Linked DNA regions of Homo sapiens. The protein of the gene in region 3 purifies or fractionates together with the protein of the main gene of each other region. This does not show direct contact. Each region holds a gene or a part of one and is shown on either strand. Other genes may lie near its edges.

Region 1 (7,205 bases), on a different chromosome or scaffold from region 3:
TTTGAGATGGAGTCTCGCTCTGTTGCCCAGGCTGGAGTGCAGTGGCCAATTCAACCTCTGCCTCCTGGGTTCAGGCAATTCTTGTGCCTCAGCCTCCCAAGTAGCTGGGACTACACCACGCCCGGCTAATTTTTTTTTTTTTGTATTTTTAGTAGAGATGGGGTTTCACCATGTTGGTCAGGCTGGTCTCAAACTCCTGACCTCAAATGATTCACCACCCACCTCGGTCTCCCAAAGTGCTGGGATTACAGGCATGAGCCAGCTTGGCCTTTTTAAATATTAAGTGCATGTACTTGAAAGTAGGTACACATGAAGATAAAAGAATAGGCTCCAGGAAAATTTAAGTCAAGTCTTCATAATCTATAAAATTGCCTATTTAATAAATATATGTTGTAAACATTTTTAATGTTCTGTAATTACTGTTATTAATGTCATGTTACCTCTTTGATCTAGGTACTTTGGTCATAAAGCTGAAGTATATAAAAACAATCTATATTTAGTACAGACCAAAATTCATGTCCTTTGCTTTTAAAAGGTAGAACCAAGAAAAAAAAAGCAATAGCAGAATACGGGCACGTATTCTAAAGAATTATAAATGGATTTTGCAGCACTTAATTTCTGTTTTTTTTTTAAGTACCTTTCTTTGATTCTTTGTCTCCTCATTGGTACCATCCCAGAACACTGATGTCTTCTGCCAGATCAGACCTGTCTTGATCATCTTCCCCACCTAAATCAGGATGTGTCCTCCCTTCTACCTTTCCAGAAATCCCACCTTAGTTTTCATACTTTTCTTGATTAACTGGTCATAAGATGATTTCCCTCAACTCCACCCTGTCTCAACATGCAACTCCCCATGAGTCAATCTTCATAATTGTTTCTAATGTGTTTGTTCCATGGTGTGTGTTGAGTAACTGTTGTTGCCATTTGCATGACTACATAGTGGTTACTGTTTATTTCTGCAGTTTGGTGTTTTTTTTAAGTCTTGAAATAGGATTTATTAACCGGAAGTGTTTCTTTTTATTTCTTAATTAAATTCAGTGAGAAGCTTATCATGAAATGTTATTCTTAGGCTGGCATTCATAAAACACTGGAGTGTTTCATTTTCTCCTGATCTCAATCTGCCTTCCAAAGCTGCTAATGACAGATGAGAGCAAGATTATAATTTTAGTTAGGGTGTGGTGGCTCATACCTGTAATCCCAGCACTTTGGGAGGCCAAGGCTGGAGGATCCCTTGAACTCTAAAGCTCGACACCAGCCTGGGCAACACAGGGAGACCCTGTCTCAAAAAAAAAAAAAATTTAAAAAGATTATAATTGTATGTAGTCAAAGAAATGTGTTTCTTTTCAAAGGCAATGTGTCAGAACTTTGTCCCATCTCTGGGCCTTTTCTTTATTATCTTAAACTCTAAACTATAGAATTAGCCTCCTCAACTATAGTTTTTGCAGGCCAGTTCACTCTCCTTGCTCTAGAACTCTGGATAGCCTATATATTTCCATCATCCTGTCTCTTTCATAAAGAATCTTGCCTTTAAATGAAAGACTACTCCTTAAACATTAGTACTTGTAATATTCAATCACCTACACATATTAAAGAACGCCTGCCCTCTTGTGTCCAGGGAGACTGCTACAGCAAGTATTGAATTAGCAAACTTGTCATTCCGGAAATACAGCATTCTACCCTACAGGGATTATCTACCAGGGAGCTTTCTCAAGGCTGCCAAGTATGGTTGTACAGTTTGAAAAATGATCCCAGCCCAAGACACGAATGCAATCCATTTTACACTCTGTCAAGCCATATATCCTTGCCCAGGTCATGTCTTTCTAGAGAGGTGACCCATTAAAATTTCATTCAAGAGTACTGTTAAACCTTGTACCACTTGGAATGTGCAACTTTCTCTAATTTACACAAAGCTCTCTATAGCTTAATGGCAGCCGTGTAGAGGCTCATTAAGAGTTAGTTGGGGCCGGGCACGGTGGCTCACGCCTGTAATCCCAGCACTTTGGGAGGCCGAGGCGGGCAGATCATGAGGTCAGGAGATCGAGACCATCCTGGCTAACATGGCGAAACCCCGTCTCTACTAAAAATGCAAAAAATTAGCAGGGCGTGGTGGCGGGCGCCTGTAGTCCCAGCTACTTGGGAGGCTGAGGCAGGAGAATGGCGTGAACCCAGGAGGTGGAATTTGCAGTGTGCCAAGATCACGCCACTGCACTCCAGCCTGGGCGACAGAGCGAGACTCCGTCTCAAAAAAAAAAAAAAAAACTAAGAGTTAGTTGGACAGTCCTCTCATCGTGTAACTTTCCTACTCAAGAAATTTCAAGAAATTAAAATCAGATTGTTAGAGCTGAATAGCTGAATGACATTAGTCCCAGGTTATCAGAAGAAGGAAATAAGGAAGAGAGAGGCAAAATAAGAACTGTCAAATTCATTAGAGGCAAGCAGGAAACTAAAATGCAGGTCTTCTGACTCCCAGTCCATGCTCTTACCTCCGGTTTCAGGTGACCCGTTTCTTTGACCCCACCTTACTTATTCCATACTAGGCTAGAATAGATGTGTAATAGCATGCATAGGGCTGGTGGGGTGATTTGAGGCAGTATGTGGACAAACATTTTTTGCACATTAGTAGAAATGTATTTGTTTTAATGTATTTCTTTGGGAAAAAACAAAAACATTAAGTCCATAGTTTCTGAGACATTATGATATATGACAAGGGTAAGTTAAGTTTGAAAAGTGAGTTAATTTGAAGAAAGATATTAAGTAGTGCATATGTTAATAGCTTGATTTAGCCATTGACAATGTATACATATATCAGAATATCATTTTGTATGCCAAAATATATACAATGTTTCCTTGTCAGATATCAAAATATCCTTTCTTTTGTATAACATAAATATATATAATTTTTACTTGTCAGTTAAAAAATAACAAAAATATTAACTAAATGATAGTTCAGATAGTACTCAGATATGGCAAAAATGATAAAAGTGGTAAAAAATCATGGTAGAAATTTGAGACCATCTCAGTCCATTCTGACTACTATGACAAAACACCTCAGACTAGGTAATTTATAAGCTATAGAAATGTTATTGCTCACAGTTCTGGAGGCTGGGAAGCCCAAGATGAAGGGACTGGAAGACTCAGTGTCTAATGAGGGTCTGTTTCTCGTAGACAGTGCCTTCTCTCTGTGACCTCACATAGTGGAAGGGGCTAGCTAGCTCCCTCGGGACTGTTTTGTAAGGGCCTTAAAACCCTTCAGCAGGATGCACCGAAGGAACTTACCACTCTGGCCCCTTCTAACCCTACCACTGAGGTCCTTTTCTGTTTAACACTGACAGTTGTTCCATTACTGTTACTGATGACAGTATATCCTCTCTTTTTATTACAGCTGTGCCTGATATTCTATCCTTTCCATACTCATCCCAGTATAAACCACAAAATAGGTCTTCAGAAAAGACTGTGGCTTCACTGATTTTCCTGTGTTGCCTCCAACATTTATAAAAAAGCATTGACCAAGAGTGTCAATGCCCTAGTTTCAAAACCATCTTTACTTTTCTAAATGTAGATGTTTTTCCATTTATAAAAATTATGTAGACTTAGCCGGGTGTGGTGGCCCACACCTGTAATCCCAGCACTTTAGAGGCTAAGGTGGGTGAATCACTTGAGGTCAGGAGTTTGAGACCAGCCTGGCCAACACGGTGAAACCCGGTCTCTACTAAAAATACAAAAATTAGCCAGGTGTGGTGGTGCACACCTGTAACCCCAGCTACTCAGGAGGCTGAGGCACAAGAATTGCTTGAACCCAGGAGGCAAGGTTGCAGTGAGCTGAGATCATGCCACCACACTGCAGCCTGGGTGACAGAGTCAGACTGTGTGTCAAAAAAAAAAAAAAAGTAGACTTATACAAAATTTGAAAAATACAGGAAAGTAGAAAAGAAGAAAAAAAGGCATTTATATTCTTACTAATGAACCCTGCTAATCCCCTCCCTAATTAAAAATTCTCCTGCAAAATCCTAGCAAGTCGGGATCTACATCTGTTTATCATTCTGGAAGCTTGCAATGTTCTGGATTTAACATATTTTTGTTATTTCAAATCACAAAATAAATTTTCAATGGAGAATCCAGGGGTGGAGTTCTTTTGGCACCTCTATAAGGGGCAGTTGGGTGACTACCACAGAGGTGAGCCAAAGCTGGGGGAGGCTACTGCAGATCAAGGATAGTAATAACTGATACACTTTGCAAAATGCATTGTGTATGTAAAGCTCTTTGTCAATAATGATGGTTCACTGTTCCATGTATACATATGCTGATGTGTATATTTGTCTTTCCTGTAGGGTTTTTGGAGTCTCTGGATGATTTTTACATTCTTAGCAGTGGATTGATATTGCTGCAGACCACAAACAGTGTGTTTAATAAAACCCTGCTAAAGCAGGTAATACCCGAGACTCTCCTGTCCTGGCAAAGAGTCCGTGTGGCCAATATGATGGCAGATAGTGGCAAGAGGTGGGCAGACATCTTTTCAAAATACAACTCTGGTAAGTGACCCTGCAGAATAACTGTTAGGCACAGACATATATTTTGATTTAGGCTTGTTAACCAGTAAAGTCATACCCATGCCCCGTCTTCATGTTTCCTGATATTTCAGGCACCTATAACAATCAATACATGGTTCTGGACCTGAAGAAAGTAAAGCTGAACCACAGTCTTGACAAAGGCACTCTGTACATTGTGGAGCAAATTCCTACATATGTAGAATATTCTGAACAAACTGATGTTCTACGGAAAGGTACTTTCTTCATGTCGTAAGTCTTAAAACCTGATGAGTATGTGTGTGTTCATATATGGTAGGGGAATGCACATTGTGTGAATGTGTGGTGGGGGAGGGTATGGTGGGGAAGACAGGATGGGGATGCTATATTACACCAGAATGACCAGGTTTAGCACAACATGTAAACCTACATCTCAAACTCTTATAGGACAATGTGCAGATTGGGACGCAAATCAGGCATTCATGACTCTATGATTTCTCATAGTTCTAATGTTACCTTTTCTCCTGTGTTCCTGGTTAAAGCTTTAAGTTCAATTCAGCAAATATTTTTGGAGTGCCACTGTGGCCCAGGGACTAGAAAAGCAAGGATACAGAATCCCTGACCTGGAAGGACTCAGGAGTCTAGTAGGGAAGCAAAGCACTCAAAGCAGCTGCAGGAACTCAGGATGGGAAGAGCTGTCATCAGGTCTCATGTCCCTAGGCCAGTGGTGAACCTAAACAGAACGTGGCTGTTAGTGGGTGGAGTCAGAGAAGGCACTTCTGGTGGGCAAGAAGGAGTCCAGACATTTGAAGCCAGGAGGCTCACTGCCTTGATTCAAATCTCAGTTCCTTAAAATCTCAGGCAAATTAGTGAATCTCTCCAAGCCTCATTTTCCTCATCTATAAAACTGAATCGTGATATAGGTCCACAACCACGTATTTGTAATTTTAAAATTCCAAAATTGTAAAACCACAAATTATTATTTTGTTTCTCTTGTTTTGCTTTGATTTGGTAGCCTAGCTCACTTGGTAGCAAGAAAATGACCTGATCTGAACTCACTTGGCAGCAAAAACTACCAGAAAGAAACTTTTAGTGGTTTTTAATTTTAATTTTTATTTTTCTTCAGATGGAGTGTCGCTCTGTCACCCAGGCTGGAGTACGGTGGTGCGATCTCGGCTCCCTGCAACCTCTGCCTTTCGGGTTCAAGCGATTCTCCTGTCTCAGCCTCCTGAGTAGCTGGGACTACAGGCACGTGCCACCACACCTGGCTAATTTTTTGTGTGTTTTTAGTAGAGACGGGGTTTCACCAGTTGGCCAGGTTGAACTCCTGACCTCAGGTGATCTGTCTGCGTCGGCCTTCCAAATTGTGGTGCCCAGCCTGTTTTTTTAAATTGTCTTTATTTCCTCTTAGAGACACCATGTATACATTAGGCTACAGAAATATCAACATCTTTGATTATGAGGTGTTTCCCAAAGAGACTGTAATGTCATATAATCCATGCACTCCATGGTTGTTCTAAAGTCTGAAAAACCCTAAATTCTGAGACTCATCTGGCTCCCAAGAATTTCTGGATGTGGGAGTGTGGAACTCTACAATTTCACAGGATGGTCATGAAAATTAATTAAGATAAATAGATAGATTTATTGAGAGAAAATGTTAGCTTTAAAAATCCTACTGGACAGTTCAGACTTTATGTTTTAGAAATTGGGAGTTCCTGACAAGGGAGAATAGACTGGGTGGGAAGAAAAGAGACTAGTTAGGAGACTATTGCAATAGATCAACTGGCAGATGAATAGGGACAGAACGGAGATAAAGTGTGGACCCTAGGGATCAGGACCTGGTCCTCAGTTTTCCAGGTCCCCAAATTGACTTTGTAATGATGCCTAGAGTGAGCCTTGTCAGTGGAGAATGGGTCACACCAACTAAATGCACTAAGACTTATGCATAAAACAAAAGGTGGGAGTTTCATTGCCAAGCAGTTCATATGCTACCAAGCAGTGGACCTACCTTCTTCTTTGCTTGTTAGGAAAATCCATCCAAGAAGTCAAATCATTAGGTGGTTACTGTTTAGCATAGAGCAATTCAAAACAGAGAACCCAGCTCCTAAGAGCCTGAAAATAATAGCATGCCTCAAGAGAGAGAGATGCTTGCTAAAGTAGTCTTTTCTTCTTTGGACAGTTGCTGATAACAGAATGGTAGACTTGGTTCTCTGCAGTCCCATTCCTAGACCCCTTGAAACTCCCTAAGACTAAAAAGAGTTGATGATGATCTGTCTGTATTTTTTTTTCTTTGCCAGAGGAGAGAAGAACAGAGAGTTAAATTCAGAGTACCTACTGCATTCTAGACACTCTTCTGGGCCTTTTACTTATGTTCTCTTGTTTGATGTTTGTAACATACTACCCCATAAGTGTTATTGTTGCCATTTTACTGTGAGTAAAGAAAAGCTCAGAAAGAAACATGTTTTGCCCAAACAAATACATGATATCATATAGCCATTAAAAAGGCGGGGGCGTCGGGGTCGGGGGTGGGCACATCTCCTAACGTATTTAAGCAACTGTGGTATGGTGATAGAAGCCCTGGATGTTTTAGTTAGAAGGCCTGTATTCTGTCAAGTTTTGTGAGCCAAGGAAGACAATTGACCTCTCTGAAACTCTGTTTCTTCTGTTTAAAAAAGGGATGGT
Region 2 (7,205 bases), on a different chromosome or scaffold from region 3:
AATAGATGAATAATTTTTAAAAAGAAAAAAGAAAAGAAAGCTCTTTTTTCCACAGGCTTTCTGCAGCTCCAAGCCTCCAGGACACACAAAGAGGGAACAGTTTGGACTTCATAACTGCACAGCCTTAAACAGCCTGCAGGAGGCAGCATGTGGACTTCAGCTGAGTGGGTATTTAAGAAACCCAAGAGAAGGAGTTAGGAAGGGTAAGAGCTTTAAAGAAGGGAGGAATAAGGAGAGAATCTGCCGCATCACCGCATCTGAGCCTCCTCACATGCAGCTCCCCTCAAGCAGCACAATACCCAGCCCTTCTCCAGCAGAGATTAGGTGAGACCTTCCCTGCTTATCGCCTTTCCCAGAAAGAGCTAAGCAAATTTTTAAAAATATCTACTCAAATTATTATCCTCATTCTATAAATAAGAAAACAAACACTTAACAAGATTAAATAGCTTGTGGTCACGCACAGTGGTTTATGCCTATTATCCCAGCTTGAGGCCAAGTCGGTGGGGAGGATCGCTTGAGCTCAGGAGTTTGAGGCCAGCCTGGGCAACACGGTAAAACCCCAACTCTACAAAACCTGCAAAAATTAGCCAGGTGTAGTGGCACGTGGATCCGTGGTCCCAGCTATTCAGGAAGCTAAAGTAGGAGGATCATCTGAGCCCGGGGAGGTCAAGGCTGCAGTGAGCCATGATCGTGCCACTGCACTTCAGCCTGGGTGACAGAGTGAGACCCTGTCTCAAAAAAATGAATAAGTAAATAAATAAAAAGATTAAATAGCTTGCTCACGGTTACATGGCTCATCTGCAGCAGGACTGGAATTTGAACCCAGGACATTTAACTCTGGAGCTCATGTGCCACACCACTAACCTTGGCTACACAGAGGATGGATTTCTCAATGGACTGGCCTGCTCTCAAAAGAAAGTAGGAAGAGGCTGGGCACGCATAGGTCACGCTTGTAATCCCAGCACTTTGGGAGGTCAAGGCGGGTGGATCACTTGAGGCCAGGAGTTCAAGACCAGCCTGGCCAAACATGGTGAAACCCCATCTCTACTAAAAATACAAAAAGTAGCCAGGCATGGTGGCACATGCCTGTAGTCCCAGCTGCTCAGGAGGCTGAGATCACTTGAACCCAGGAGGTAGAGGTTGCAGTGAGCTGGGATTGCGCAACTACACTCCAGCCTGTACAACAGAGTAAGACTCTTGTCTCAAGAAAAAAAGAAAAGAAAAAAAAGGGAAAGAAGGAAGAATACCTCTGAGATCTTGCTCTAGTCAAGTCCTTTATCTTAGTAGAGACAGGGTTTCAGACTGGTCTCTAATTCCTGACCTCATGATCCACTCGCCTCAGCCTCCCAGAATGCTGGGATTACAAGCATGAGCCACTGCGCCTGGCCCCCACGCATATTTCATACAGTGTATAAGAGAAGAAGAAGACAAAAACTTAGGGGAGACTAATAAGATCCTGCAGAGGAAGACTAATGAATCCTATAAATAGATTTTTTTTTTAACACTCAAGATTTTTAATCCTTGCCCTGGAATAGCAATGTAAGTGATCTCTCTAGAAAAGTTTATACAAGTCTTTCTTGCACTGAGTGTGTCCTGAATTGAACAAGTTATCCTGCAGGATCTACGCCTCGCCCTCTGCTTGGGACAGGTACAGACAAGGTAGTGAACAGAAGAAAGCAGTGCCTCTGGAGTGCAACTGCCTGGTTCAAATCTCAGTCCTGCCACTTATTAGCATGCACCTTGGGCAATTTACTTAGTCTCCATGGCTTAGTTTCTTCATCTGTAAAATGGGATTAATAATGGCATACCAATACCTAGCTCATTGATTTGTTGTAAACATGAAATAATATCAAATAAACCACGTGCCTAGAATAGTGCCCAATAGAGTAAACTTCTTACAAAAGACGTTGGGCTGCCTACTAGTCCTCACCACAGGAAATGGCTTTCCCAGATGGATTTGGTGACACAGTAAGAGGCCCAGAGATCTTTTAGTCCAGTAGTATCAAATTTCAGTGTGTATCAGAATAATCAGGAGGGCTTGTCAAAACACAAATTTCTGGCCCACCCTCCCAGAGTTTCTCATTCAGTAGGTGTGGGCTGGGAGTCAGAATCTGCGTTTCCAACAAGTTCCCATGTGATGCCAATGCTCCTGATCTGGGAACTATGCTTTGAGAACCATGTTCCAGTCCACATTCTCTTTTTCTTTTTGAGGCAGGGTCTCACTCGGTCACCCAGGTTGGGGTGCAGTGGTGCAATCACGGCTCACTGCAGGCTTGACCTCCTGGGTTCAAGTGATCCTCCAACCTCAACCACCCAAGTAGCTGGGACTACAGGCATGCACTAACAAGCCTGATTAATTTTTCATATTTTTTTTGTAGAGATGGGGTTTCACCATGTTGCCCAGGGTGGTCTCAAACTCCTGGGCCCAAACGATCTGCCCGCCTCGGCCTCCCAAAGTGCTGGGATTACAGGCATGAGCCACTGCACCCAGGCTTCATCTGTATTCTCATTCTACAGACATGAAAACTGAGGCCCAGACCAGCTAAGCATTTTGATCACGGTCACCCAGAGCCACAGTGGAGATCAGGAGAAAACTGATTCCCAGGCCAGTGCTCTTTTGCTTCTACTCGGTCAGAGGTGTGGGGTCCTTCGAGACAGTGGTTGGCTGCAGGCTCCTGGACAGATCCGCACCTTCATAGCTGTGTGAAGGAGATTTCCCACGTTGGCATAGCAGCCACTGGGGAGCTGGTTTCCTGCCATCCACTTGAGAGCATCCTGGATGTTCTTGGGATCAATGAAGATGAATTTCTGAGCTTGGCCAAAGCATTTTGTGACAAACGCTGTCAGCCTACATGGGTAAAGAGGAAAATATGGCATGAAGAGGAATTTCCAGGTGAGGGTGCAATCATTTCTTCATTTATTTGGGTGTATACTTCCAGAAGGGGAGCTGAGGGAACATATGCCATAGCAGGCCTAGAAAAGAGAGGCATTAATGGGCACCAATGAGGACAAGAACAGGGGAGGCACAAGCTCAGGAAGATCGAGGGACTTGACCATCCATGAGGGTGAAATAAACAGTATTAAAGAGGTAGAAGACTGAGTGCAAGAAGGAAAGGGGTTAAGGGGAGAGGTAGTGGAATAGTTCCAGAGGGCTCAGGAATTATGCTCTGGAGTACAGAACTCATTGGGAATTGGGTGATATTACCATGTGTTTCCATTTCCATCTCGCTCCCCAAAGGCACTGTATGAGCCATTGCTGTGTTTGTACATCAGCTCCTTCTGGTACCCTGGGAAGCCAAATGTGGTTTTAGATCACAGCGACAACTTCAGAAAACACCCCCATGCCGTTCAAGGATATGGGACACTTGAGGGGCTGGAATTCCCTGTATCATCAATCTGTCATAGGGCCTAGTGGAGGAGAGTGTTCAAGAAAGAAAGACTGAACCAACTTACCTATTTCCAGGAAACCCACTGCCCGAGACCTGATCTCCTCCGTCAGCAGCCCTGCCTTCTCCAGGTACTGCAAGACATAGATGATGGGAGCAAACAAGACCATGTTCTGCTCGCCACAGCCACTGGGCATCTGCACCAGACCATCCAGGTTCTGCAGGGCTGTGCCCATAATGTCTCCTGGGATCCAAAAGGAGAGAGAGAAGGTAGGGGTACAGAGAAGAAGGGACCCTCTAAGAGTTATCATCATTCACTGAACAAACACGTATTAGCTATCATTTAATAAGTACCTACTATGGGCCGGGCGTGGTGGCTCACGCCTGTAATTCCAGCAGTATGGGAGGCCGAGGAGGGTGGATCACCTGAGGTCAGGAGTTCGAGACCAGCCTGACCAACATGGACAAACCCTGTCTCTACTAAAAATACAAAAAAAAAAAAAAAAAAAGTACCTACTGTGTGTCCTGGGAAGACCACAGTAAATCAAACTCGGTCTCTACCCTCAAAAAAACTCACAGAGGAGCAAACCATTACAACACATTACAATTTTTATTCATTATAAACAATTTTAATACAGTACTACAATGTCATACTGGATATGTACGAGGTGCTAGGGGACACGGAGAGGCACATAAGCTATCTAAGAGAGTTCAGGGCTTTTAAGAAGACATGTCACTGAGCTGATGAGTGATGTGACAAAACTTATAACACTTAGGATCAATCTCTTAAGCTCCTCTACCACTGCATGTACGTTCCTCACCCTCCAAATCACCAAGTTTCTCTAAAACACAGTTCTGACACTCTTTTCCAAGTTGTCACTGACCCCTTCATATACTTCCCAAGCCAGTGAACCTGACATAAGTGACTCATTAACATCTGCATTGTAGCCAACAAGCTCAATTCAATCTATAAATGTGTCCTGAATGTCAACTATGTTGCAGGAACTGTACTAGGAACACAAAAGAAAAAGATGTGGCCCTTCCTCTTCAGGAGCCCCCAACACAGTGTGGAAGACAGATATAGACAGTGAACTCTAATACAATAAGATAAGTGCTATGTCAGACTTACGAATAAAATAGACAAAACAGAGACACTGTGACTGCAAAGGATCTCAATAGAGGGTGAGGGAGTAAAGAAAGAGCCTAACATTCATAGGGCTCCTACTACATGCTAGATATTGTGCTGGGGACTTTATATTGCATTTAATCTTTACACCAGTCTGAGAGGTAGGTTATTATCACTGTTTTACAGAAGAGGAAAGAAGGCCCAGAACTGTTCACTAACTTGTTCAGGGTCACATGGCTATTAAATGACAGGTTAGATATGATTTCTACGTTCATGCTTTTCAACCCACTTCCTCCCTTGCCCCAAACAGTAAGTGTGCTGCCTATTGTAAATATGGTTGTATCTTCCCTAAACTATACCCAAATTCCTCAGTTTTGAAAATGGTTGCTGCAAATATTCTGTTTTCCCTTCACCCAATTTATAGACTGTCTAAACCTAAAATCAAGCATCAGCGACCTTACCTTCTTCCTACCCTGACTCTCTTCCATTTTTAACTAGAGTACAAGTCTAATCCCATCTGTACTGTTGCCTACACTGTATTTCCCTCCTATATAAAATACGCTCTTTTTCCTTCATCACTTGTTATTAGTTACACTCTCCGGATAGGTCCGTATGTCCCGCCCCACTCCACACCTTTGCAGCCTCCATTCGCCTTTTCCTTTCTGAGTCAAGAATCTCTAACTGCTTACCCAGAACCGTAACATAAGCCTTGGTCGAGTCAGGAACAATGTCCACTGGGAGCTCCAGGGAGACAGATTCAGATGCCACCTTTCCTGTGAGATGCAGAAAAAAAGGTGACACAATAGAAGATGGGGAATGGCAGGGGTTCTCAAGACAAAATTTTAGAAGAACTTTCTATAATCCAGGGATTTCTGTACTCGGTGCTTTCTCTGGGATGCAGAAAGCACTGGGTACTATTCATAGTGATCTTGCTGAAAATAAATTCCACAGAGAGTCATCATCGTGCTGCACACTTTCTCTTCTTCCTCCTGCCTCCCAGTTAATCAGCCCCATGAGGAATGGCACTTCAGACTCTCCTATTCCTTCTGGTACTATGCATTCCTCCTTTTGCCTATGAAAATCTCCTGCTGCCGGGTGCAGTGGCTCACGCCTGTAATCCCAGCACTTTGGGAGGCCAAGGCAGGAGGATCACAAGGTCAGGAGTTCGAGACCAGCCTGGCCAATATGGTGAAACCCCATCTCTACTAAAAATACAAAAATTAGCCAGGCATGGTGGCATGTACCTGTAGTCCCAGCTACTCAGGAGACTAAGGCAGTAGAATCACTTGAACCCGGGAGGCAGAGGTTGCAATGAGCTGAAATCGTGCCACTGCAATCCAGCCTGGACGACGGAGCGAGACTCCGTCTCAAAAAAAAAAAAAAAATGAAAAGAAAATCTCCTGCCCTCTAAGGGAATTCTCACCACCAATCCTGCTCTGAGTCCACCCACCTTTTGGGCACAGCAATGAGCTGTGTGTCTTCTCCACCAGGACTCCCTCAGGCTGCGATGAAGAGAGACACAGATAAAAACAACAAAGATGAACATCAGGAGGGATGGCACTAAAGGAAAGGGAAGGGAGGCCCCTCGCTGTGCCCCCAGGGCTTCCCTCAGAACTGCAGACAAGAGCTTCTCACTGAAGCTCAGAAGAACTCTGCGTCAACCCAAGGATGGGCCCTTTCTGTAAAGTTCTTTCTGGGCAAGTGCTAGAGCCAAAGACACATTTAGGCAACTTCTAAGAGGCAAGATTGACAATGGGCTTCATGATGGGACGAAAAAGGCAGCTATTGATGAAGACAGACATTTTAATTAGGTAAACTAACATTTGTTGAGTGCCTATGAGGTGCCGGGTTTTAGGTGCTTTCATAGGCCGTGGGTGTGGATTAGGCAAATGTTCAAGGGGCCAGGGAAGGAGAAAGTTGAAGCTGCCTGGTTGGACTGGAGTATGGTTGCTGTGAGAGACTAACTCACAGCAAGACGAGATGCTGAGCATCCCTCGGTTGGTTGCTGTCTCTACCTCTGAAGAAAACTCACTTTGACGAGAACTGGCTTGATGAGCGTGTCACTTCGGCCCTTTTGGGGAACAAACCCCTTCTGGCCCCCACATGGTTCATTGCTGTCCAGAATCTTTGTACTAATAGTAAAGTTAATGTGACCTGAGAGAAAGAAGAAGGGAAGCCATTAGCCCTATTGCCAGAGGTACCAGTGAGGTCCATTCCCATTTGGATCAGCATTTCTGAAACTTTAATGGGGATCTTGCAACAGTGCAAACTCTGCTGCCATAGACCTGGGGTGGGGCCCATATTCTGCATTTCTAACAAGCTCCCAGGTGATGCCAGAGAGGCTAGTCCAGTGTGGTAGGTAACCTCTAAGGGCCCTCAGAGATCCCTGCATCCTGATATTTACATCCATTGAGTGTGAGCTGGATTGAGTGACTCGCTTCTGTTAAAGAGAACAGGGTGAAAGTAATGACTCTTCTGGGATTAGGTTACAAAAAAGACTGCAGCTTCCATCTTGGGTGCACCCCTTTTCTCAAACTGCTTGCTCTGGGGAAGACAGCTGTTGTGTGATGAGGCAGCCCAGCAGAGAGATTCATGTGATGAGATACTGAGTGAGGCCCCTAGCCAAAAGCTGAGGTCAAGAACTGTGTCCTTCAGTCTAGCAGCCTGTAAGGATCAGAGACTTTGGGATGAGC
Region 3 (7,205 bases):
TCACCCAGGCTGGAGTGCAGTGACGCGATCTCGGCTCACTGCAACCTCTGCCTCCCAGGTTCAGGCAATTCTCCTGTCTCAGCCTCCCAAGTAGCTAGGATTACAGGCCTGTGCTACCACGCCTGGCTAATTTTCATATTTTTAGTAGAAACAAGGTTTCACCACATTGGTCAGGCTGGTCTCAAACTCCTGATCTTAGGTGATCCACCCGCCTAGGCCTCCCAAAGTGCTAGGATTACAGGCATGAGCCACCGCACCCGTCCTAGAGCTAGTAAGTTTTAGGGCAATTTTTTCTGCAGCAACAGATAATACAGAATCTTTATAAACTCTTTGTTGAAATTAATTCCCTTCTTCCTAAACAGTAGCTTCTAGTTTCAACAAAATAAACCCCTCTGAATTCCCAAAATTGCCAGGGGGAGCAGGGGGTGGGAAAAAAGCACAGCACACCCTCTGATCTGAGAGCTTGCTAATTCTTTCATACTCCTAACCACAGAAGACTGTAAAGTGAGAACTGAAAGAGTAACTTATACCTGTTCCAATTATAATAAGGAGGTACAGAATTACTTTATCACCTACAATCAAAAGTTGGTATTAATAAATTACCATCTGGGTTTGTTTCTCCCCATTTAAGAGCTTATTAACCAAGTAGCTTAATAAGAGGTGTTTTTTGCATCTAATTAATAGATATCTTAAAGTTTATGGCTTACATCGTCATTCTAAAAAACTTTTCTTAGTAAATAATAATGCACTTAACAAAAATAAAAGTTGTTTCAGAATTTAGAAAAACGTGGAAAAAAGTCACTCTTAGATCTACTGCCCAAAGGTATTTTTGTTCTATCGTTTTCCAGTTTTTTTCCAGGGTAGAGGTGGCACACTGGTAACCCTTTGTAATCAGACTTCTGAATCTAGTAGTAAACAAGACTGAGGGAGAGGTTATTCAGAGAAATATCTCACATCAGTTCTGAAATTATTCCTATAAGTAATGAGAATATATAATAAAAGAATTTCTTTTTCAGTTTCATTCAGACAGTGCCATGAAAGGCAGCAACCTCCGCAGGTTGACAGGTTCGATACTGTGACTAGTACAATCAGGTATACTTTGCAGAGACAGAATTTTCCTCAGGACTCTGCTATTGAGCTGGGGGCTGTGCCTCAGAGAAGTCCACCCATCCTTTCAAGACTTCCCTTTTCTTAGAGCTAACAGTGATTCATCTTCAGGTAGATGGAACGTCTTCTCACAGTAAATTTTTAAAGAACATGGATTCTGGGGCCTGCATATCTAAGAATGTCTGAGCCACTGCACCCAGTCTTCAACCCCTTTTAAGATTTTTCTTTCCTTAGTCTTGAGCATATGTGAAAAAAAGAAAAACTAAAATAAAATATTTTTTTAAAATCTCCGTCTCAGTAGAAGTCTCTTCTCATTAATTTTCGCTTTTAATCTTAAGACTTAATTTTTCAACTCAAGAACACTTTTTTCTCTTCAGTTGTATCTTCTTCTCCAGCACTTTGGTTTCTTCCCTGGGAATATTTACATACTCACAGACTTGGTCTCTTTGTTTAGAGCTACTAAGTTTTAGGGCGATTTTTTTCTGTAGCAATAGAGAATACAGATGGCCTATTGCCAAGATTTCCTCAAACTACAAGGCTGATAGAACCACACTTGACAATGAAATGGAGGCCCACGTTAGAAGTGCTGAGCCTGCCCTGAAGGTAGATAGCAAGCCCCTGCATCCTTTCTCTACAGTCACCTTGCAGTTCAGAAATGCAAGGCCAGTTTCAGTCAGAAAATCAGGCAGCTACAGGTTGAGGCAGGGTGTGGTTCTATCCTTCTCTTCCCATTGAGCATCATTCAGTTTCTTTTTTCTTTTTTTTTGAGACAGAGTCTCGCTCTGTCGCCCAGGCTCGAGTGCACTCAAGTGCAGTGGTGTGATCTCGGCTCACTGCAAGCTCCGCCTCCCGGGTTCACACCATTCTCCCGCCTCAGCCTCCTGAGTAGCTGGGACTACAGGCGTCCACCACCACGCCAAGGCTAATTTTTTTGTATTTTTAGTAGAGTCGGGGTTTCACCATGTTAGCCAGGATGGTCTCGATCTCCTAACCTTGTGATCCACCTGCCTCGGCCTCCCAAAGTGCCGGGATTACAGGCGTGAGCCACCACGCCCGGCCTGAGTATCTTTCAGTTTCTATTTGGTGGCTCTAACTCCCAGAATACACTTGGATAGGGAAGCTTAGTGTTTTCTGTGTGTATTTGTGTTTGAGGGTAGGAAGCAGTTATAGGGTATTGAGTCCTAGAAAGTATAGTCTTCAAGAACAAAGATTCCAGTTGACATGGGCAGAGAAGTGCATTCTGGAGACAGTACATTCTGGAGACTGCAGTGTTTTCTACACCTTCATTTACGGCACACTCCTGGAATGGGGTCAGAATCAAGCAGTGAGGGTTAGATGATCCTATCTCAGTCCAGCATAGCTGTATGAGATAAAAGCCTCCCAGTAGCACTGGGAGCACTGGGCTAGGGGCTCTGCATATTCTCTTGGCCAGCTGTAGATCTGAGAATGGCAGTTACCTATGTCCACGGGAGTAGAGAAGGGGACCAAGGGTAATCTATGCACCCTTGCTGGCAAATACCAAGAGGCCTTTGAACAAATTCTGCGAAATAAGAGAAAAGGGAATATCATTCTAAAAGTTGAGAGAAAGAATGAATCTTTGAAGATGACTGCCAGTGGGAACCACAAGAATTCAAGTGGGCAGTTGAGGCTACTTACCAGTTAAGACATTACAATGGTGGGAAGTAGACTGTGACTGAAAAGAATCGCAGCATCTCAGTGTTACAAGGGATCTCAGAAGCCTTCAGTTCAACCTTCTCAACTCCACAGCAACTAAGTAAGCGGTCATCAAGCCCATGTTTGAATCCCCCCACCTGATCTAGAAGTTATTACGCATTACATGGTGAAACAATTCACTTCATTTTTACAGAGTCCTAATTTTTAGAATCTTATTTTTTAACCGCAGCAACATTTAACACTCTGTACTCTCTATCCCTGAGTTCTGTCCTGTGGAGCCACACAGAACAATCCCAATATTTCTTTTAAGAGGTAGACTCTTTTACGAGATGGATGTTTCTTTCAAGAGATAGACCTTCAAGTACAATAGTATCATATCGACCTCCCAAGCTGTGTGTTTTAGTTGTCCCTAAGGATACTAGCAGAACTGTGAATATACCCACATAAGCACACTATGCTAGCTATTCGAGAATCTCACATGCAATACTACCAACTGCAACAATGGTAAATATATTCTTGGTCAGCATCCCTACTTACAGAATAGAAAACAGAACACCCCCACCTACCATACATATTCTTTTACACAGCTCCAGGAAACCCTGATTAATGACCTCCACTTGCAAAGGAGGCTACTTACCTTAACCATGAAATAATGAATGCTATTGATCCAACAAGCTACTGCTATAGAGTGTTATTGATCACCCAATCTTTGGTTAAAATGGTCCTCATTTAGCAATTTCACTGTCACAAACACCTGGAGCAAAGCACACTCATAATTAAAGAGTTTGGGGGAGTTAAAGTGAGAGGTGATGGACAGAGATCTCAGCTTTCTCCCACTTATTCTTGCTTCTGAGCTATTGTTTGTATCAGAAGGGATATTGATTTTCTATAAAAATAAGAAAACAAGAGGCACCAAAGGGCCGCAGAAGGTCAGCCTGGGCTGGAGAAGGAGTGGGTAGGTTTAGCACTCTATCTCTGTCACTTGCCTTCCAAGAGAGGAGAATATTTTCTTTCCTGTGAGATCAGCCTCTAATACATCACCTTAGGAAGGCTCCTGAATGTGACCTCTGGCCATCACCCAACCAATTCACTTATGAAAAAAAAAAGAAGCTAAACTATATTCAAGGGGAACAAACAAATGATGTGTTAGTAAAGAATAGAGCAAAATTAGGCTACAGTCACCTAATAGCTAATAGCTATTAATAGTTGCTATACAGACAATTTAAATAAAGATCAGTAGAAAATAATTTTACAGTAGTTGTTCTGCTTTAGAATACTCACAAACACACATACACAGAAAAATATTAAAATAATAGTTTGATCTCTATGCAAGCAGAAAAAAACTACTATACTATAACCATTTTTAGTTCCTCAAAACTTGTGAGGGATTGGCTGGTGTAATATTAAAGGAAGACCAGAAACAGAAAAGCAAACAAATATTGATGAAGTCTATACTCCATGTTTAGGTCGCAAAGAGTGAGTTTAAGGAAATTAGAAATAAGCTGATTGAGACACACATTTTCAAATCTAAAACATCTAATACATGCTTTAGAAAAAAAAAACGCTACCATTGACTAGGCTAAGCTAAGCTTAACAATCAACTTCATCTTAATAATCTTACAATGTGGATCATTACTCTGACAACCCTCAATACCACTGCTAAAAAGTAAAATTCTACATTTTGATCTGTATGTGAATAAACAGTGGCACATCCAAGTAGATTTATGAAAGGGTAACCAAGAAGATTCTTGAAAGTATTTCTTTTAAAAATGCAGGGAAAAAATAAAGTAGAAAATTATTGACAGAATCAACTCATCAAGACAGTATAATATCCAAATCATATACTATTATCTCCTTACACTCTAATGCCAGCCCTTTTTAAAGGTGTGCCTAACAATTAAGGGAGATTTTAGTTCCACTCTCCTCTTGAAGAGAGGCTGAACACAACATTCAGTCAAAGAGTAAGAATCACCCCCTTTCCCCACAGAATGGATTCAGGGGGAAAAAATACAAAGCACTTCTGTTTGTAACTACAAATGAATCGAGACAAGTCAAGGGGAATTTAGAACTCCTAAATAACTAGAAGATTTTAAAGAACTTTCCTCAATGCCGTGTGTGCCACCACTCCGCCCATTATTCCTTCACAGCTACAACCCTTTAGCATCTACATATTGAAAGAACTCTGAAGTGAGGGGCCAGGATAATAGCCCAAATGGGTGAATGAGTTCTCCTCAATTTGAAAAGAGTAAGAATTTCATAAGAATTCCCATCCACTTAAGTTATCCAGACTCTCAGATAACGAGAATTTACATTATTACATCCTGACTAGAATGTGCAATAGATGTGTCTGGAGTAAGAAGGAACAGAAAAGAGTGAAGCATCTCATGCTAGAAAACAGGCTCTGCATCTGGAGCCATACTTGGGCTGTTAGAGCAGACAGAGTTAACAGTCGCTCTCTCACATACAATTATGTCGTAGTTTAACAAGAAATTAAGGGGAAGAAACATACACAAAGCTACTATCCCAAAAGGCTACTTTTAAAATCACCATTCTCAATACTAAGAAGACTTCTATTTGGTATATATGCTCAATATTAAAACAAACTTGAATGTCTCAATAGAGGGTTTCAATAGTGTGAAAGGCTACAAGTTGACTAAGCATTTCTTGTTTGATTAAAAATAGTCTGATGAGGGAAAAATACCTTTATAATCCAAATATATACATATAAATTCTGCAAATAGACCTTAGAAGGAATGAGGCATTAGAGGAAAATTAGGAAAGTCAAATTATGAGCCTATCTCAATATAGTCTGCAGACTGGCAAATATAAAGTTAATAAGAAAAAGTTTAAAAGCTGGATTAAAAACCACTCAAGAAAGGTACAGGTATACAGACCTAAACAGTTTTTCCTGTTACTGACACAGCCTCACCTCAGTGTTCCTAAGATTAATGTCTTTGTTTTTAAGCTAAACTTCAGAAAGGTCATATGTTCTACAGTTGGGAAAGTTAAATTGAGACAGAACAACTCAAAGGGCAGCACAACATGGTGGTTAAGAATGAGCTTTGGAATCAGGCTTGATTCCCAGTTTTGGCACTGGGTGATCTTAGGCAAATTATCTAAGCTCTTATAACCTCAACTTCCCTTCTGTAAATACAAATAGTGGTATCCACCATATAGTGGAATTGTGAACATTAAATAAGAGTATATGCTAAGTCCATAGTACAGTGCCTGGCCCATAGTTGAGTGCTTAATAAATGCCAACTAATATTAACAATAATAGAATACACTGGTTCTCAACTGGGAGTACTCAATCCACCTAGGGATCACCCCTGGAGGCCTTTGGGTTGATACAATGAAAAGGGGGTGTGAATAATGCAGAGATGCTAAATATTCTGCAATGCACCATAAAGAATTGTCCCATCCAAAACACCAATGGCATCCTCACTATTAAGAAAAAGATAACCACAGATTAATATTAATAACATTAAAGTATCAAGCTGGGGGGTATCAATGTTCCTAGGACTATCTGAGATGTAAAAAATAAAAAGTCACCAAAACTACACTTACATTTTTAAACATGTACCCATTAGAGACAAATTTTTCTGGCTTGATCACATCTGATGTAAGACTAATGGGACTCGGTACTGTTATTTTCAAAGCCCACCATGTGTTCAGACAATTTGAATGTCAGCCATAAAAAAATAAATTCAATATAATCAAACCACAAGTAGCAGAAAACAGAATTATAGCCAAAAAGCATCTAAAGCCATGATTCTTAATGAGGACAGGCAACTTAATGGAACATTTATAAACTCCGTATACCTGGCGCTAGCATATTCTCTCTCACACACACACACCAGCCTCTGCTGAGACCTGAGTTCTAAACAACAATATTTATGTATAAACTGTATGGCATAATAAGCAGCAAATTGTTTTTTAAAATAAAATTATTAGTTTTGCATTTGAGGTACGCGTTTTAAACAGTTTTTAGAAACAACTGTGTTTCTATTACATATAGCCTTCCTGACAGAGGGAAATAGACTCATGAATGGTACCTTAAAAAGCTAAACTACTGATTGATTCAAGGAAGGCTTCAAAGTCAATACTAGAGTGGCTGGTTTGAAAGAAGGTAGAACCCACTAAGACCATGGATGTGCACTTTGGGAAAAATTAACCAGGAAAATCTTTGACTTAGTAAGGGAGATCTCACCATTCTGACATGTTCTCATCAGAGCCCTGTTTTTGTTCATCTGTTTCACACTCCATCCTTTCTTTCCTTCCTGTTTTGCTTAGGAAAGTCCTATTTTCTGCTGATTCACACAATCCGTGGCCTGATGAGGTCCAGGGAGTATTCTCCTTCCAGCGGGACAGACGCTGCTTCTTAGCAGACTTGAACCTGCAGCCTCTCTCATAGCTCCAATCTG
Region 4 (8,195 bases), on a different chromosome or scaffold from region 3:
ATGAAGTCTTTTTTTTTTTTTTTTTGAGATGGAGTCTTGCTCTGTCGCCCAGGCTGGAGTGCAGTGGTGCAATCTCCGCTCACTGCAAGCTCCGCCTCCTGGGTTCACGCCATTCTCCTGCCTCAGCCTCCCGAGTAGCTGAGACTACAGGCGCCCGCCACTATGACTGGCTAATTTTTTTTTGTATTTTTAGTAGAGACGGGGTTCCACCATGTTAGCCAGGATAGTCTCGATCTCCTGACCTCGTGATCCACCCGCCTCGGCCTCCCAAAGTGCTGGGATTACAGGCGTGAGCCACCGCACCCAGCCATAATGAAGTCATCTTAAAATGACTATAAATTTTCCTCAGAACATGTAGGGTCCAGCCGTACGGGGCTTAGTGGGTGTTCTCCCCGTGTGCGGAGATGAGAGATTATAATAAATAAAGACACAAGACAAAGAGATAAAGAGAAAACAGCTGGGCCCGGGGGACCACTACCATCAAGAGGAGGAGACCGGTAGTGGCCCCAAACGGCTGATATTTATTGCATACAAGACAAGGGGACAGGGTAAGGAGGGTGAATCTTCTGAGTGATTGACAAGGTGAAGCATGTCACGTGATCACAGGACAGGGGCCCCTTCCCTTTTAGGTAGCTGAAGCAGAGAGGGAAGGCAGCAAACGTCAGCGTTTTCTTCTATGCATTTCTAAGAAAGATCAAATACTTTAAGACTTTAACTATTTCTTCTACCGCTATCTACTGTGAACTTCAAAGAGGAACCAGGAGTATGGGAGGAGCATGAAAGTGGACAAGGAGCGTGACCAGTGAAGCACCACAGGGAGGGGGTTAGGCCTCCGGATGACTGCGGGCAGGCCTGGAAAATATCCAGCCTCCCACAAGAAGCTGGTGGAGCAGAGTGTTCCCTGACTCCTTCAAAGAAAGGAGACTGCCTTTCGCAGTCTGCTAAGTAACGGGTGCCTTCCCAGACACTGGCGTTACCGCTTGACCAAGGAGCCCTCAAACGGCCCTTATATGGGCGTGACAGACGGCTCACCTCTTGCCTTCTAGGTCACTTCTCACAATGTCCCTTCAGCACCTGACCCTATACCCGCCGGTGATTCCTAGGTTATATTAATGATGCAACAAAGAGTAATATTAAAAGTTAATGACTAATGTCTACACTAATGATTGATAATGTCCATGGTCATCTCTATATCTAATTTGTATGATAACTATTCTTACTGTAACTATTTTCTTTATTATACTGAAACAGTTTGTGCCTTCAGTCTCTTGCCTCGGCACCTGGGTAATCCTCCGCCCACAAGAACACAGCTTTAGCTGCCTCCTGTAGGAGTTCAGTAGGAAGGGAATCTACCTTTGTAGTGTTTGATATGTAGTTTTAAGGAAGGAGACCACCCCTCATATATATGTCTTATGCCCAATTTCTGCCTCCAAAGAAAGAAAAAGTAAAACCTAAAAGACAGAAATAAAATCCACAGGCAGACAGCCCAGTGCCGCGCCCTGGGCCTGGTAGTTAAAGAGGGACCCCTGACCTAACCGGTTATGTTATCTGTAGATTCCAGACATTGCATGGAAAAGCACTGTGAAAATCCCTGTCCTGTTCTGTTCCGTTCTGATTACCCGGTGCACGCAGACCCCAGTCACGTACCCCCTGCTTGCTCAATCGATCATGACCTCTCACGCAGACCCCCTTAGAGTTGTGAGCCCTTAAAAGGGACAGGAATTGCTCACTCAGGGAGCTCGGCTCTTGAGACAGGAGTCTTGCCGATGCCCCCGGCCGAATAAATCCCTTCCTTCTTTAACCTGGTGTCTGAGGAGTTTTGTCTGCGGCTCTTCCTGCTACAGTTTGTAACCAGATTATTTCTGACAAGTTTTGATCCAGGGTTTTTTTTTAAAGATTTGTCAATTTCAAAATATTTGTTTGCTCCTGCTTCCTGTTCTCTCTCTCCCTTTTTTTTTCTTTTTTTAAGACAAGGTCTCACTCTGTCACCCAGGCCGGAGTCTAGTGGTGGGATCACTGCTCACTGCAGGATCCAACTCCCAGACTCAACAGATCCTGCCGACTCAGCCACCGACCCCATAGCTGGGAATACAGATGTACATCATCACACCCAGCTAATTTTTAAAGTTTTTTGTCGAGATGGGTCTCACTGTATTGCCCAGGCTGAGTTTTCTTCTTCTTTTTTTTACATTTTGTTTGCCTAGAATTGTATTTGATTGTAATCAAATCATGTGTCACATCTTTTTTTCAATTTGTGTGATTATTTTGTGGCCCAATACATGATTTTTTTTGCGAATATTTCATGGACTTAAATAGATAAGTCCTCTCTCTACACATAATTAAATGGAGTGTGTGCTTTGCATTATTCAGTTCCTTTATTCCCATCCTTGCTTTTGTCTGCAGATTTGTCCTATTCCAGAATGGGTATACTGAAACTTGGGTAAGGGTGAGGCCAGCGTTCTGGGTGGCCCAGGCTACTATCCCACCCGTGCCACAGAATCCACACAGAGGCCCAGCGGCGGCACTGGGTGGTGGGGAAGGGGGAGGCGGACCCAGGTTGGGGGGGCAGGCAGTCAGTGCGGTTGCCAGGAAGCGGGAAAGGGCCACAATGGGGTCTGGGAGGTGGGCGGGGCGGAGCGGGGATGTCCAGCCACGTCGCTTTGTTTTCCCACGCTAGGAGCTACCACAACAGGTCAGTGCACCTCGGGGCACCGGGTCCCCCACGCAGGCCCTTCCCGGGGCACCCTTTCCCAACAGCACGAAAATCTCCTGCCCCCACCCCACCCCCAGGTGATTCCCTTCACCAAGTCTGGGTCTAGACTTGGCCCCCGCGAGTTCACGTCCCTGCCTAATGCGCCTGGAGTCCGGGTGATGGCCCTGGATCCGCTCCCGGCCCCAAGCTCCACACAGCCGGGAAGGAAGCTCGCGTTTGTTTTGCTGGCGCCAGGGATACGGTCCAGGCCCCGCCCCGCCCCGCGCTGATCCCAGGGTAGTGGGAAAGTGCGCTCCCCAAGAATTTGCGGTGCAGGGGCCGCGGCCACCGCCTTCTGTCCGCAGGTGCTGCGAGCCGTAAGCGCCCCCCACCCGCGCTATGGGCTCGGACGCCTGGGTGGGCCTTTGGCGGCCACACCGGCCCCGCGGCCCCATCGCGGCGCACTACGGAGGCCCCGGGCCCAAATACAAGCTGCCGCCCAACACCGGTAGAAGGGGCAGGCCCCGGGATTGAGGGGTGGGACGGCGCCTGGGGGAGGGAAGGGGAAGAGACCAGGGAGGCCTGCGCTCGGGGCTGAACCGTGCCTGCTAGAGGGGAGAGGGGGTCTGTGCCGGGGGAGGGTCCGTGTTGCAGATGGGGCTTGGGGCTGGGCCCGGCCAGACGCTAACTCGGATGCTCCCAGGCTACGCCCTGCATGACCCGTCGCGGCCGCGCGCCCCCGCCTTCACCTTCGGCGCGCGCTTCCCCACGCAGCAGACGACGTGCGGCCCCGGGCCAGGCCACCTGGTGCCCGCTCGCATGACCGTGCGCGGCACCGACGGCGCCCCCGCCTACTCCATCTACGGCCGCCCACGCCGCTCAGCGCCCTTCCTCACTCCGGGACCTGGTCAGGACCCCCGGGCCCCTGGCCACCCCAACGCCGAACTGCCTCCAGGGAGGCCCACCTGGGAACCCCCGACCTGAACCCCGAGTCCCCCTCGGATACCCTAACACCGCATATTCGGTACCCCCATATCCGGATCTCAAATCCCAAACCCCGAACCCCACGGGGCTTTGATAAATCGTGGCTCAGACTCCCCACTAGTCCCAGGACCCCATCTCGGGTACCCACCAGGCTCCCACGCAGTTCTAGCCCCCCACACCCTTGATCCGCCCCGCAGGCAGGTACTTCCCGGAGCGAGCGGGGAACGCGACGTACCCCAGTGCGCCTCGGCACACCATTGCTCCCCGAAACTGGGGTGTCCAGGCGGAACAGCAGAGCCCAGGTGAGGTCAGAACGGCCCATCCCAGAACTGTGGGCCTTCCCACTCGAGACCGGGGACCGCCCTCCGGGAGCTGGGACCACCCTGCGCCTGTCCGCGGAGACCCACTACCCCCGAGCCCTGCCTCCTCCCCAGGTCCCGCGGCCTATACGGTGCCCTCGCTCTTGGGTCCGCGCGTCATCGGCAAAGTCTCCGCCCCAACTTGCTCCATCTACGGCCGCAGAGCGGCTGGCAGTTTCTTCGAGGACCTCAGCAAGGTGGGGGAGGGGCCGGGGCGGACGCAGGGGGTCCCTGGTCCGCGGCAGTGGAGGCGGCAGCCAGCACCCTCTGCCCTCTCGCAGACCCCGGGCCCCTGCGCCTATCAGGTCGTGAGTCCAGGGGTCTACAAGTCCCGGGCCCCCCAGTTCACGATTCTGGCGCGGACTTCGCTCCCCCAAGACAACACTCGGAAGCCAGGGCCCGCGGCCTACAACGTGGATCAGGTGGCCTGGAGCCCAGGGTCAAGGGTCAGAGTCAGGAGAGTGGGGAGGGCCTGAGGTCGGAGTGATGGGATCAGAGTCCCCGGGGGTCCAGGGGTCCCGGCGCGGAGAGGATGCCGGCCCCGCGAGGTCAGCGGTGTCTCCGGGCCCGCAGCACCGGAAGCCCCGCGGCTGGAGTTTCGGGATCCGGCACTCGGACTACCTGGCCCCGCTGGTGACCGACGCGGACAACTGACCCGCCAGGCGGGAGCGGCCCCACACGTGTTTGCTTAAAGTCTGCGAGTCCGCATCGTGTCCGCCTCTCTCTCTCTCTCTCTGCGCGTCCTGGCGCAAGGCCTGGGGTGGAGCCACGGCTGGGGCCGTGTCCCAACTCCGAACCCAGCGGGGCGGGGCCCGAGCGTCGGGCGAGGCCGGGACCCCAGCGCTGCGCCGCGTCCGAACGTCGAGACCCCACCGAGGGCGGGAGGGGGACTCTCGGGAGCCACAGACGCCCGAGACCCACGCCGGGCGGGACCGGCCAGGGATCACCCCCGCCGACGGCCCCGGGCCCCGACGGCCCGGAAGTTCCGCGTGTCCGGGGGCACCGGGGGATTGGCCGGGGCGCGGCGTGCAAGGCTTCCCGGGGGCGGCGACTGCCGAGCTCCGCCCTCCAGGCGGCCCCACCCGCCTGCCGTCCTGGGGCGCCGCCGCCCCGCCGCCGGCAGTGGACCGCTGTGCGCGAACCCTGAACCCTACGGTCCCGACCCGCGGGCGAGGCCGGGTACCTGGGCTGGGATCCGGAGCAAGCGGGCGAGGGCAGCGCCCTAAGCAGGTACGGGCGGGGCTCAAGTCGCGAGGCGGGGAAGCGGGAGGCAGACACGGACGAGGGCGACACAGACACGGGACCGAGGGGCGGACACCGGAGAGACACGGGAAAGGGGTCGGGACAGGAGCACGTGGCTCAGACACCGACGCCGGGAGGCCGCAGACCCCGGACGTGTCAGGCATCCCCGCAGGCCCGGAGCGATGGCAGCCTTGATGACCCCGGGAACCGGGGCCCCACCCGCGCCTGGTGACTTCTCCGGGGAAGGGAGCCAGGGACTTCCCGACCCTTCGCCAGAGCCCAAGCAGCTCCCGGAGCTGATCCGCATGAAGCGAGACGGAGGCCGCCTGAGCGAAGCGGACATCAGGGGCTTCGTGGCCGCTGTGGTGAATGGGAGCGCGCAGGGCGCACAGATCGGTGCGTGGGGAGGGTTGGGCGTTCCTGACCCCGACTGGGAGGTCAGCCCGAGAGACTTTGGGTCCCTGGGGGTGCGACGGTGCCCCACTACCAGCACCGGCCCCAGGGTGCCCCACCGCTGTGGGCTGCCACCCTCACGCGTACCCCCACATACCAGGGGCCATGCTGATGGCCATCCGACTTCGGGGCATGGATCTGGAGGAGACCTCGGTGCTGACCCAGGCCCTGGCTCAGTCGGGACAGCAGCTGGAGTGGCCAGAGGCCTGGCGCCAGCAGCTTGTGGACAAGCATTCCACAGGGGGTGTGGGTGACAAGGTCAGCCTGGTCCTCGCACCTGCCCTGGCGGCATGTGGCTGCAAGGTTAGAAACCACCTCCTTTCCAGACGGGAGCCTATACCGCACATGCAGCAACCAGTCCATCCACAGGCAGCTCCCAACCTCAAGCCTGGCCCAAAGCCTCCAAGACCCTACCAAGGCTTCTCCCCACCCTGCTCCCCAGCACAGTTCTCCCCACCCCGTTCCCCAGCACAGCGCTTGGGGCCCCTCTGGCTCCAGACCAGGCCCCTTGGAGCAGGAAAAAGATCCACTGATGGAATTCAGACCCCTTTCCCCTTGGGTCCCCAGACAGCTCCCCCAAGGGAGGAGCTGAGGACTTTCCTCCCTCTGCCCCAAGCCTTGTTTCCCCAAGGACAGGTACCAACCTCCTCCCCTACTGACACTTCTCAACCAAGAAAACTTCCTTTCCATTCCCTCACCAGCTGGGCACCCCTATAGCTGCTTAAATACTTTCCAAATCCAGCTGCACTCCTAGCCAGGGAAGGTGAAGGGATGCACAGAGGTGGGGGAGGGGTACTGTGCAGGGTACTCAGCATCCCTGACCACCAGGTGCCAATGATCAGCGGACGTGGTCTGGGGCACACAGGAGGCACCTTGGATAAGCTGGAGTCTATTCCTGGATTCAATGTCATCCAGAGCCCAGAGCAGGTACGGGGCGCCACGGATCAGTCATTAATCCAGGTTGATGATGGAGACCCTGGCCAGAATCACTAAAAGATCACTGGTGGATCATTAGGGTCACTAATGAGAACACTGGTCAAGGTTACTCATGAGTCACTGGGCCTGGGCCGAAATCATCAGTGGAACTTTGATTAGGATCATAAAATGGGAAGTTGGTCAAAATCACAGATGGCTGGCGGGGCACGGTGGCTCACACCTGTAGTCCTAGCACTTGGGGAGGCCGAAGAGGGCAGATCCCTTGAACCCAGGAGTTCAAAACCAGCCTGGATAACACGGCAAAACCCCATCTCTACAAAATAGTTCGCTGCGTGTGGTGGTGCACGCATGTGGTTCCAGCTACTCAGGAGGCTGAGGCAGGAGGATCACTTGAGCCTGGGAGGTCTAGGCTGCAGTGAGCCGGGACGATGCCACTGCACTCCAGCCTGGGCAACAGAGTGAGACCCTGTCCCAGCACTCTGGGAGGCAGAGGAGCCCAGTTGGAGATCAGCCTGGGTAATATAGTGAAACTTGATCTCTACAAAAAAAAGAAGAAAAAAAAAAGCCGCGTGTGGTGGTGCGCACCTGTAGTCCCAGCTACTGGGAAGCTGAGGTGGGAGGATCACTTAAGCCCAGGAGGCAGAGGTCACAATGAGCCGAAATTGTGCCAACTGCACTCCAGCCTGGGCAACAGAGGAAGACTCTTCACAGAAAAAAAAAAAAAAAAAAAAAAAGCTGCTAAGTCATTTACCATAAGTCACTGAGAACAGGGGATGTCTGACCAGATGCAAGTGCTGCTGGACCAGGCGGGCTGCTGTATCGTGGGTCAGAGTGAGCAGCTGGTTCCTGCGGACGGAATCCTATATGCAGCCAGAGATGTGACAGCCACCGTGGACAGCCTGCCACTCATCACAGGTGACCTGACTCCATGGCCTGCTTCTGCATGTTCACAGGCTCCTGACCTCCAAACTCAAGTCAAGGGCCTCTCGTTAGGAGTTACCCGTCACCTGACCGTGTGCCCCCCTACCCCCATCACAAGATGCCTGACCACCACCATGTGGGGTGGCCTGATACTCAACCCACCAGGTGCTGCCACCCCCATAATAAGGGACTTGACCCTCAATGCTCAGGGCCCCTGACCCCAAAGTCGGCATCCCCGAACTCTCCCAAGAAGCTCCAGGTTCTCCATTGTCTCCAACCTCCTCTGCCTCCCCCAAAGCCTCCATTCTCAGTAAGAAACTCGTGGAGGGGCTGTCCGCTCTGGTGGTGGACGTTAAGTTCGGAGGGGCCGCCGTCTTCCCCAACCAGGAGCAGGCCCGGGAGCTGGCAAAGACGCTGGTGAGCGGTGTGGCCTTTCCCTGGGCAAGCGTCTTGATGCGGGCCCAGCCTACCCTTCACCCCTCCCGTCCCCACTGCCTCCCTCCACTCAGCAGTCCTGCCTAACCCCAGTCCCACCCTCTTCTGCCCGAAGTCCCTCCCTCCTTCACGGCTTCCTAACCTGCTGTGACTTTAGAGGTCAAGGCTGGCCC

What was found.
Region 1: the proteins of GPATCH2L (region 3) and PLBD1 purify together in Homo sapiens (affinity purification with mass spectrometry; 2 studies listed by BioGRID and IntAct, with this or other methods). This does not show direct contact.
Region 2: the proteins of GPATCH2L (region 3) and A2ML1 purify together in Homo sapiens (affinity purification with mass spectrometry; 2 studies listed by BioGRID and IntAct, with this or other methods). This does not show direct contact.
Region 4: the proteins of GPATCH2L (region 3) and TYMP purify together in Homo sapiens (affinity purification with mass spectrometry; 2 studies listed by BioGRID and IntAct, with this or other methods). This does not show direct contact.

The regions. Positions count from the first base shown.
Region 1 is NC_000012.12:14,508,835-14,516,039, reverse strand, and holds part of PLBD1 (phospholipase B-like 1 precursor), read left to right. Parts: intron 1-4,328; coding exon 4,329-4,529; intron 4,530-4,639; coding exon 4,640-4,780; intron 4,781-7,205. UniProt on the Homo sapiens protein: In view of the small size of the putative binding pocket, it has been proposed that it may act as an amidase or a peptidase.
Region 2 is NC_000012.12:8,853,589-8,860,793, reverse strand, and holds part of A2ML1 (alpha-2-macroglobulin-like protein 1 isoform 1 precursor), read right to left. Parts: intron 6,667-7,205; coding exon 6,545-6,666; intron 6,015-6,544; coding exon 5,963-6,014; intron 5,286-5,962; coding exon 5,202-5,285; intron 3,631-5,201; coding exon 3,454-3,630; intron 3,288-3,453; coding exon 3,206-3,287; intron 2,849-3,205; coding exon 2,692-2,848; intron 1-2,691. UniProt on the Homo sapiens protein: Is able to inhibit all four classes of proteinases by a unique 'trapping' mechanism. This protein has a peptide stretch, called the 'bait region' which contains specific cleavage sites for different proteinases.
Region 3 is NC_000014.9:76,154,812-76,162,016, reverse strand, and holds part of GPATCH2L (G patch domain-containing protein 2-like), read right to left. Parts: coding exon 6,992-7,205; intron 1-6,991.
Region 4 is NC_000022.11:50,526,974-50,535,168, reverse strand, and holds the start of TYMP (thymidine phosphorylase isoform 1 precursor), read left to right. Parts: upstream 1-5,156; 5' UTR 5,157-5,265; exon of another isoform or gene 5,266-5,449; 5' UTR 5,450-5,459; coding exon 5,460-5,673; intron 5,674-5,830; coding exon 5,831-6,033; intron 6,034-6,558; coding exon 6,559-6,657; intron 6,658-7,451; coding exon 7,452-7,581; intron 7,582-7,885; coding exon 7,886-8,004; intron 8,005-8,195. Other genes in the region: CIMAP1B (ciliary microtubule associated protein 1B), read left to right, coding at 3,092-3,200, 3,396-3,599, 3,874-3,978, 4,111-4,511. UniProt on the Homo sapiens protein: May have a role in maintaining the integrity of the blood vessels. Has growth promoting activity on endothelial cells, angiogenic activity in vivo and chemotactic activity on endothelial cells in vitro. Catalyzes the reversible phosphorolysis of thymidine.